3 separate regions of the Homo sapiens genome follow, and all the other regions are linked to region 2. Evidence: fine-mapped expression QTL. A gene starts in region 2. Each other region holds a variant in brackets. All regions are shown on one strand. Distances are from middle to middle.

Region 1 (2,500 bases), 330 kb after region 2:
CCTCCATTCATGTCTGTCATACCTACCACCTGCATGTTCTTCTCTGAGCTACTTAAACAATTGGCCTTTAAGTTATTCAACTGTAGAATGAAGAGCATGATTCCTTCTTCAGTGGGGCTGTTTTAAGCATTGGAGATAATACGATGTAATAACATAGGTAGTGCTAAGTACTTGGAATTTAAAGTCACTTGATGAGTCAAAGTGGCTTTTATTGTCAGTGTTATTACTTCCTATCAACTCTCAAATGATGTTTTATATCTCATTGACCCATGCTTACTGTTTAAATGAAAATCTCATATGTGTATAACATATATATATATATATATATACATATAATAAAATACATTTAATATACACTTTTCTTAATGGCTTTTTCCATGAACTAAATGAACTCTCTTCTCATGAAATGAATCAATATCAAGTATTCAGACTTAAGTAAAACTTTCAAGTGCTCCAGTTGTAAAACTGGAATGTGGAAAATGGCCTAGGCTCATTCCTTCTCTGGATTGAATGGGGGTCCCTCTGATAACATCGGGCAAGCCCAACGCTGCTGCCGAGTGGGATGTATTAGGAACCCTGCCAAAAATAAGTGGCCGTGGGAAGCACTCGTCTTCTCCTAATGGGCCCGAGATGCTTGTTTCTGCCAAGAAATGCTGTGTGGGTGGACGGAACCAGTAAAGGGACCCAGCTTCGGCAAGCAGCCCCCGCAGGAAGCCACTTAACACCTGTAAAGCTGAGATTCTCTTTACCCACCCAGAGACACCAGGGTAGGTGGGACTGGAAAAATGGGTCCCAGTCACAGAAAGGGGCCAGTCTGGGAAGCCTCTTTGTCCCCACAGGCCAGACCTGCTCCTCTTCCACCCAGAGACATTGAGGTACCCGGGGGTATTGGTAGGGGAAAATTACTATACCCTTTGCCTTCAACTGAGAAACACACAGAGTCCCTCAGGTAGCACCAGCAAGAACCAGTGAGAGCCCCGGTAGCACCAATGTAAACCAAGCAGACCAGAATTCCACCACACAGATTCTGAATATTGAAGAGCAACTGGAACTGTAACCCACAAAATGTGCAAGGC[A/CA]CGTGGTAAACATAAACAGGGTGACAGCCTGCTAAAATAAAAGATTTGAATAGGACCCAAAGTTCCCTAACATAATAAATGACATGTCCTGGGTACAATCAGAAAGAACACGTTGTATCAGGAATCAAGAACATCACAACTTGAAAGAGAAAAGAATCAAGTGATGTCAACAGTGAGATAAATCAGATGTTGAAATATATGACAAGGATGTTGAAGTAGTTTCCATTAACATGCTTCAACAATCACTGACGAGCTCTCTTGAAACAAATAGAAAATATCAGCAAAAAAACAATGGTTACAATAAAGAACTAAATAGAAATTATAGAACTGAAAAATACACTAACATAAATAAAGAACATGCTGAATAGGCTCAATAGTAGCATGGAGATGACAGAGAATAGAATCAGTGAACTTGAAGATAGAACAATAGAATTCACCCAGTCTGCACAATAAAGAGAAAATAGACTGAAAAAACAAACAAACTAGATCAACACAGACTTAGGGACTCATGGACAGTAACAAAAGATTCAACATTCTCTCAAAGGGAGAGGAGAGAGTGCAGCTGAAAGAACAATCAAAGAACTAGTGGCTGTAAACTTTCCCAAATTTGGCAAAAGAGACACACCTATAGGTTCAAGAAGCTGAGTGAACCTAAACCAAGATAAACACAAAGAAATGTAAGTTCAGACATATCTTAATTAAACTTCTGAACACTGAAGGCAAACAAAAAGTCTTGAAAGCAGTCAGAGAGAATTGGGACATTACCTAGAGAGGAAGACCAGTTAGAATAAAAGCAGATTTCTCATCTGAAACCATGGAGGCCCTAATGAATTGACAATATATTCTTCAAGTGCTGAAACAAAGGAATTGTCAACCATACATTTTATATCTGGAAAACTATCTTTCAGGAGTAAAGAGGAAATAAAAACTTCTCATATGAAGGTAAACTAAACAAAATTATCACTAGGAAACCTACCATTAAAGATGGTCAAACAGAAGTTCTTCAAACAAAAATGAAATTATTAAAGAACCGTGGAGCATGAGAAAAGAAAAAGGAAAGTGGAAAAAGCAAAAATATGTGTACATACAATAGAATATCCTTTTCCCCATAAAGCTTGTGAATCATATTTAATAAAACAAGAAATTATAATGCCCTCTGTTATTCAGTATAATGATATGGAAAAGTTGAAAGGGGACCTAAATGGAAATCACATTTCCACAAGTGGTCAGATGTGGATGGTGGTAGACTACTATAATCACATAGGCACATTGTCACACACAGAACAACCACTACCAAAACTGTGTGAAGAAATGTACAGAAAAACGCTAATATCAATCAAAATGGAATCCCCAAGATATCAAGAAAAGAGAAATAGAGGACCAAAAAGCAGATAAAGTAAACAGAAATTATATAATAAAATGTA
Region 2 (2,669 bases):
CTGGTGGACATGGCTGCGGAGGGTGGCGATGGCCTGGGCGGCGGCGGTGGCGCGGACTGGCTCCCGGAGAAGAGGCGAACGAGGGCGCGGTGGGTGTGGGTGGTGGGAGCGCGGCTGCGTCTCTGGCGCGGGGACCTCGGAGCGAGAGTGGCAGAGGACTGGACCCCGCCGAGGGCGCTGTTTTTATAACCCCGTTAGGAAAGAGGGTCCCCTCCCACTGCCATCCCAGCCGCGGAGCGCGCCAGCCAATAGGGACCTAGCGAGAAGCGGGGAGGGTGGGCGGGTGGGGTGGGGGCGCCCTCGAGCCTTCCTGCTCCGGGGCCTGGGACTGGGCATGGTCCCGTTACTTCAGCGCTGGGCTGGGACTTTTGGGGGCTTTCCGGATGATAGTCTGAGCTGGGCTCACCCTGGGGTGCTGAAAAAGGCGGGGTCGCGCGGTGAGGGGGGGGTCCGCCTGGGACTGAACCAGAGGGGTCCGGTGGCACCACGCCAAAGGGGCGTGGGAGGAGGTGCGCGGCGGTCTCGGGGCTGCGGTCAGGCGGGGAGACCCGCGGGCAAAGGAGCGGGAAGAGGAAAGAGTAAGGAATCCCTCAGATCTGAAGTCGCGGAGAAAGAAACAAAGAGCGCCTGAGATTGGAACGCGGGGTGGGGGCGCGCACAGCGCAGGAACGCAGGGCTCAGGCCTCGCCGCAGCCTCGCGCGCCGCCCGCTTGGAAAGGGGGGCTGCTCCGGCCCGCGCCTCTGTCCATCGACTTGCCTTGGCGGAGAGATGTTGGGGGGAGGGGAGGTTCTGTCGAGGGACCTAACGGGCTCAGTCCAGCTTCGGACGGCGGGAGTTGCGAGACGGCGGTGGCAGAGGAAAGCCCGAGGGAGAGGGGTGGGGTCGCTTAGTCACCGGCGGTGACTCACCGCGCCCTGCTGTCCCGCCGATTGAGGGCTCCTAGCGGTTTAGGGGAAACCGTTAGACCAGATTGATTCAAGTCTCAGCGGGCTCCGCGCGCGCTGCTAGTTCTCAGTGCTACCAACTTACAGCTGGGCCATCGCCTTGCTGTGTGCGGTCGGGCCCTGTGGGGGACAAGAGCGCCCCTAAGTTTTTAATAACTCGCTAAAGCCTGTCTTTGCTCGAATGTGCGGACTTTTTGTTAGCAAGAAACTTCTGCAGCCTTTGGAGAGGCGCCATACGTGGGCCTCCCAGATCACGATTGCACCGGGAAGGTTTTTCTTGCAGAGTCCCCGCCCCCGTCCCTCTGGTCTCCTCTCGCTCTTCCCCCTCCCCCCATGAAACCACACCCAACTTTTTAAACAAGATCTGAAAATTCTGGGTGAAAGAGGAAACTCGACGTCCGTAGTTTCAAAATAGAACTCAGTGATCAGTGGTTTTTACCCTGGTGGAAGTCATTAAAGGTATAATATGAGCCAGTTAAAGAATTAATTAGGTGTTGCTTAAAAACCCCAATTTGATTAATGAGTTCAAATGAAAGGCAATTATGTAACACAAATGACAGAATCTTTGGCGGCAATAGATTTATGTGTTAATTTTAGGACAGCAATGCACAGTACAGGGTTCACGGTGATTTGTCTGGGAAATGCCATAGGTCCTGTTTTCCAAAAGAATTCGTGCAATTGACCTTGGGGTGAGGGGGATAAAACTGTCTACGCAGCAAAAAACTTCGTGTCCAAGACATGGAGGGAGTGTTCAGATTCGGTCACCTTAACCTTTCTAGGGAAATCACTCAATTCAAGGGCTGTTGTTTCAATATTAGTAACGAGCAGAGCTGAGTACTTACCCGCCAAGGGAGATAAAAGGAGACTATGTAAATCAGTCTTCTCGTGATTTAGTAGCAATTGAAAAGGCACAGGTTTTTTTGAGTATTTAGATTTATGGTGTACTGAAAGGATTAACTGCAGAACCACTGTAAAATTGATTCTGCAGTGGATAGGAGAAAAAAAAGTATTTCTCTCTTTTTTTTTGGTGGCGGCAGGGGGTACTGCAGGTTACTTGGTATTTAAGAAACATAATTTAGAGGTAAATGAAGAGCGTATTCTGACTTCTTTGGACAAGCCTCTTTTAGGCAATATTTTGTTTACCTTATCCCAGTTCGTTCTTGCAAATGGTGCTTGCCAAGGTGGAATTACAGGACTCTCTACTGCCCAGCTCGCCTGCTGGGGCTTTCTTTTATTCTCTCTTTCACTGGGAGGCTGCAGGTCATTCCCCAAGAGCATTCCTGGGGCTGGGTGCCCTGGAGGACAAGCCTATGCTCTGAGTTACATCTTGCTTTCTGAGAGCCCTTTATTCAAGCCACTGCTCAGCAAATGCCACCATTGTGAGTGTGCCTGGAACCCTTAGAATGAGAAAAGTGATCTCCCTATGGGAGGAAGAGAGTGTGGAACTCACTTCTACGTGCAGTGCCGATCCCAGGGCAATGCGACGCTTGCTGACTGACTCACTATGGAAAAGGAGGACAAGGCATTGGCGAGGTGTGGCACTGTGCCCTGCTGGTGCCCATAGCCGATTCCTCAGGGCTGCGGTGATGTCTCCTGGAATGGGCACTGGTCCTCTTCATCATCTCAGGGATAGGTAGCTCCTCCTTCCAACCTGTCCCCATTCTGAAGTCTCTGGGCTGTGATAGGCTGCTCTCTTGTCACAGACATATGTTTGTTTGATGCAT
Region 3 (2,500 bases), 290 kb after region 2:
TAGCACTGGATTGCAGTAGTCAAGTACTTAGAAAAGACCTTCACTTTGTAATCTTCTGGAGCATCGGACAGAATGCTAATGTGCATGTTGATCATCTAGGATCTTGCTGAAATTCACTTTCTCACTGAGTTGGTTGGTGGGGCCAGATTCCTTGTTTCAAACAAGCTCTCCGGTGATGCCGATGTTGCTGGATTATGCACTTTGCATAGAAAGATTTTAGAGGCAACTTCGTGTAATTTACGTTCTGAGGAAAATGATCTCCCTTTCTTCCCTTTCTGCTTTCTGAGAAGCAGAAGAAAACAATTTTGCGTATTTCACATTGTTGATCATATTATGAGTAATAAAATTGAGCCTGAATGTATACACAAAAGTTGGCAGCCATCCCAAAGATGGATTTAGACCAATTCCTTGCAAAATAAAAAAAAGATTGAAGATAGAAATATTGTGTTATAAATCATCAGATTGTCAAAGGAGACAAATATGTGGTTTGTTTTGTCTGATGTGGATATATCCTGATTTCAATTATCAGTTATAGCTTGCTGTGAAAATTCCATCTAGTCTAGTCCAGATGGTCTATACTGTAGTGACCCACCTTGGTGGGATTCTGAGAGCCACCAGCTTACCACCAGGCTTACTGATTTGGTTAGAGACCTACCAATGCTAGTATCTGGCTTGAGAGCTAGGTTAGAGCAGAGCTGACCAGTTACTTCACCCCTGTGGTCTGGTAGGCAGGGAGTGACCAGAGATGTGCCTGGTATATTGATTAGTGGTAGGGCTTGAGGTGGTCAGAGCCTCCAGGCTGGTTATCTCTAACTATTCTCCTCCATTAGCTGAGATAGAGCCCCAGGGGAGCACTATACTTAGCATAAAGTAAAATCTTGCCATGGATAATGTTGAGCATTAACAGAAAGATACACATGACAGAGAAGTACATTTTTCCTTTCCTTTCCCCTTCCCCTTCCCCTTGCCTTCCGTTCCCCTCCCTTCCCTTCCCTTCCTTTCCCTTCCCCTTCCCCTTCCCCCTTCCCTTCCTTTTCCCTTCCCTTCCCTTCCTTTTCCCTTCCCTTCCCTTCCCTTTTTCCTTTACCCTTTCCCCTTTCCTGTTTGTTCATGCTTTCATTTCATTGGGGTATAAACCTAGAAGTGAAATTGCTGGTTCATATGATAATACTATGTTTAACTTTTTGAGGAACCACCAAACTTTTTTATAGGGATGGACTATTTTACATTCCCGTTAGTAATGCGTAAGAGTTCTAATTTCTCCATATCCTCATCAGCACTTCTTATTTTCTATTTTTAAATAATAGTCTTCCTGGTGGTTTGTAGTGTTATCTC[T/A]TTGTGGTTTTGATTTGCATTTCTCTAATGACTAATAATGTTTGAAAATCTTTTCATGTTTTTATTGGCCATTCATAAATCTTCTTTGGAGAAATGTGTATTCGGTTTGTTTTCCATTTTAATTGGGTTATTTGTTTTTAATTTTCGAGTTGCAGGAGTTATTTTATATTCAGGATACTACCTTGGTCATGTGTTTTTATTTTCTTTGGGTATATATTTAGGGGTGGAATTTCTGGGCATTAATTGGATGTACATTTAATTTTATGAGAAACTCCCAAATAATTATTCAAAGTGGCTATGTCAGTATGCAGTCCCACGAGGAATATATAAGACTTCAGTTGCTTTGCACGCTTGTCAACAATTGATCTTGTCAGCCTTTTAATTTTAGCCCTTATGATGGGTGTGGAATGATATCTGACTGTGGTATTTAAGTTGCATTGCTCTGATGACTAATCATGCAGAGTACTTTTCACATTCTTGGTAGCCATTTTCTTGTCTTCTTTTATGAATATCTGTTCAAGCCCTTTGTCCACTTTTAATTTGGTTGTTTTTTCATTATCTGTAGGAATTCCTTTTATATTTCAACTTTGAGTCCCTTGCTAGATAAATGCTTTACGATTATCTCCCATTTCCCCACCCCGGTCTGTAACTTGCCTTTTCATTTTTTTAAATATATATATATTTTCTGGACAGAGTCTCACTCTGTTGCATAGGCTGGAGTGAGTGGCACGATCACCCCTCACTTCAGCCTCTATCTCCCAGGCTTAAGCCATCTTCCTGCCTCAGCCTCCCAAGTAGCTGGGATTATAGGCACAGGCCACCACACATAGCTACATTTTATTTTTTGTAGAGAGGGGGTTTCACTGTGTTGCTCAGGCTGGTCTCAAACTCCTGGGTTCAAGTGATCCTCCCACCTCAGCCTCCCAAAGTGCTGAGATTATGGTTGTGAGCTACCACACGCAGCCTATTCATTTTCTTATTCATGTCTTTAATGAAATGTTTATTTATGAATTCAAATTTATTAATTTTTTATCTTGTGGTTAGTGCTTTTTGCATTCTATGTAAGAAATATTTGCCCATCCCAAGGTCACAAAGATTTTTCTCCGTGTTTTCTTCTAGGATCTTTATGTTTCTAGCCTTTATATTTACATCCTTGAGAAATATT

Direction of the effects. Positions count from the first base shown, and alleles are read on the strand shown. Sizes are in standard deviations (SD) of each study's normalised expression. Not every link is listed here.
In carriers of allele A in region 1, the expression in unexposed skin of the gene that starts at base 1,193 in region 2 tends to be higher than with CA alone (small effect, 0.11 SD a copy in GTEx).

Evidence for each region. PIP is the estimated chance that this variant, and not a neighbour inherited with it, causes the effect.
Region 1: its variant is the best candidate, but not a certain one, in a credible set for the expression of VIM in unexposed skin (GTEx, PIP 0.82).
Region 3: its variant is the best candidate, but not a certain one, in a credible set for the expression of VIM in whole blood (TOPMed, PIP 0.54).

The regions. Positions count from the first base shown.
Region 1 is chr10:16,895,896-16,898,395 of GRCh38, reverse strand. All of the region lies in intron 54 of CUBN (cubilin), which reads left to right. Among named protein-coding and RNA genes, the nearest start is that of RSU1, 80 kb to the right of the region's middle. The variant A/CA (reference allele first, on the strand shown) is at 1,077.
Region 2 is chr10:17,226,765-17,229,433 of GRCh38, reverse strand. It overlaps VIM (vimentin), which reads right to left and starts at 1,193. Exons shown (of 10, transcript NM_003380.5): 1 at 910-1,193; 2 at 1-158. The coding sequence starts at 11. VIM-AS1 (VIM antisense RNA 1) reads left to right here. Exons shown (of 3, transcript NR_108061.1): 1 at 1-89. RefSeq lists a silencer at 2,500-2,669.
Region 3 is chr10:16,941,362-16,943,861 of GRCh38, reverse strand. The region is part of intron 36 of CUBN (cubilin); the gene reads left to right. Among named protein-coding and RNA genes, the nearest start is that of RSU1, 130 kb to the right of the region's middle. The variant T/A (reference allele first, on the strand shown) is at 1,336.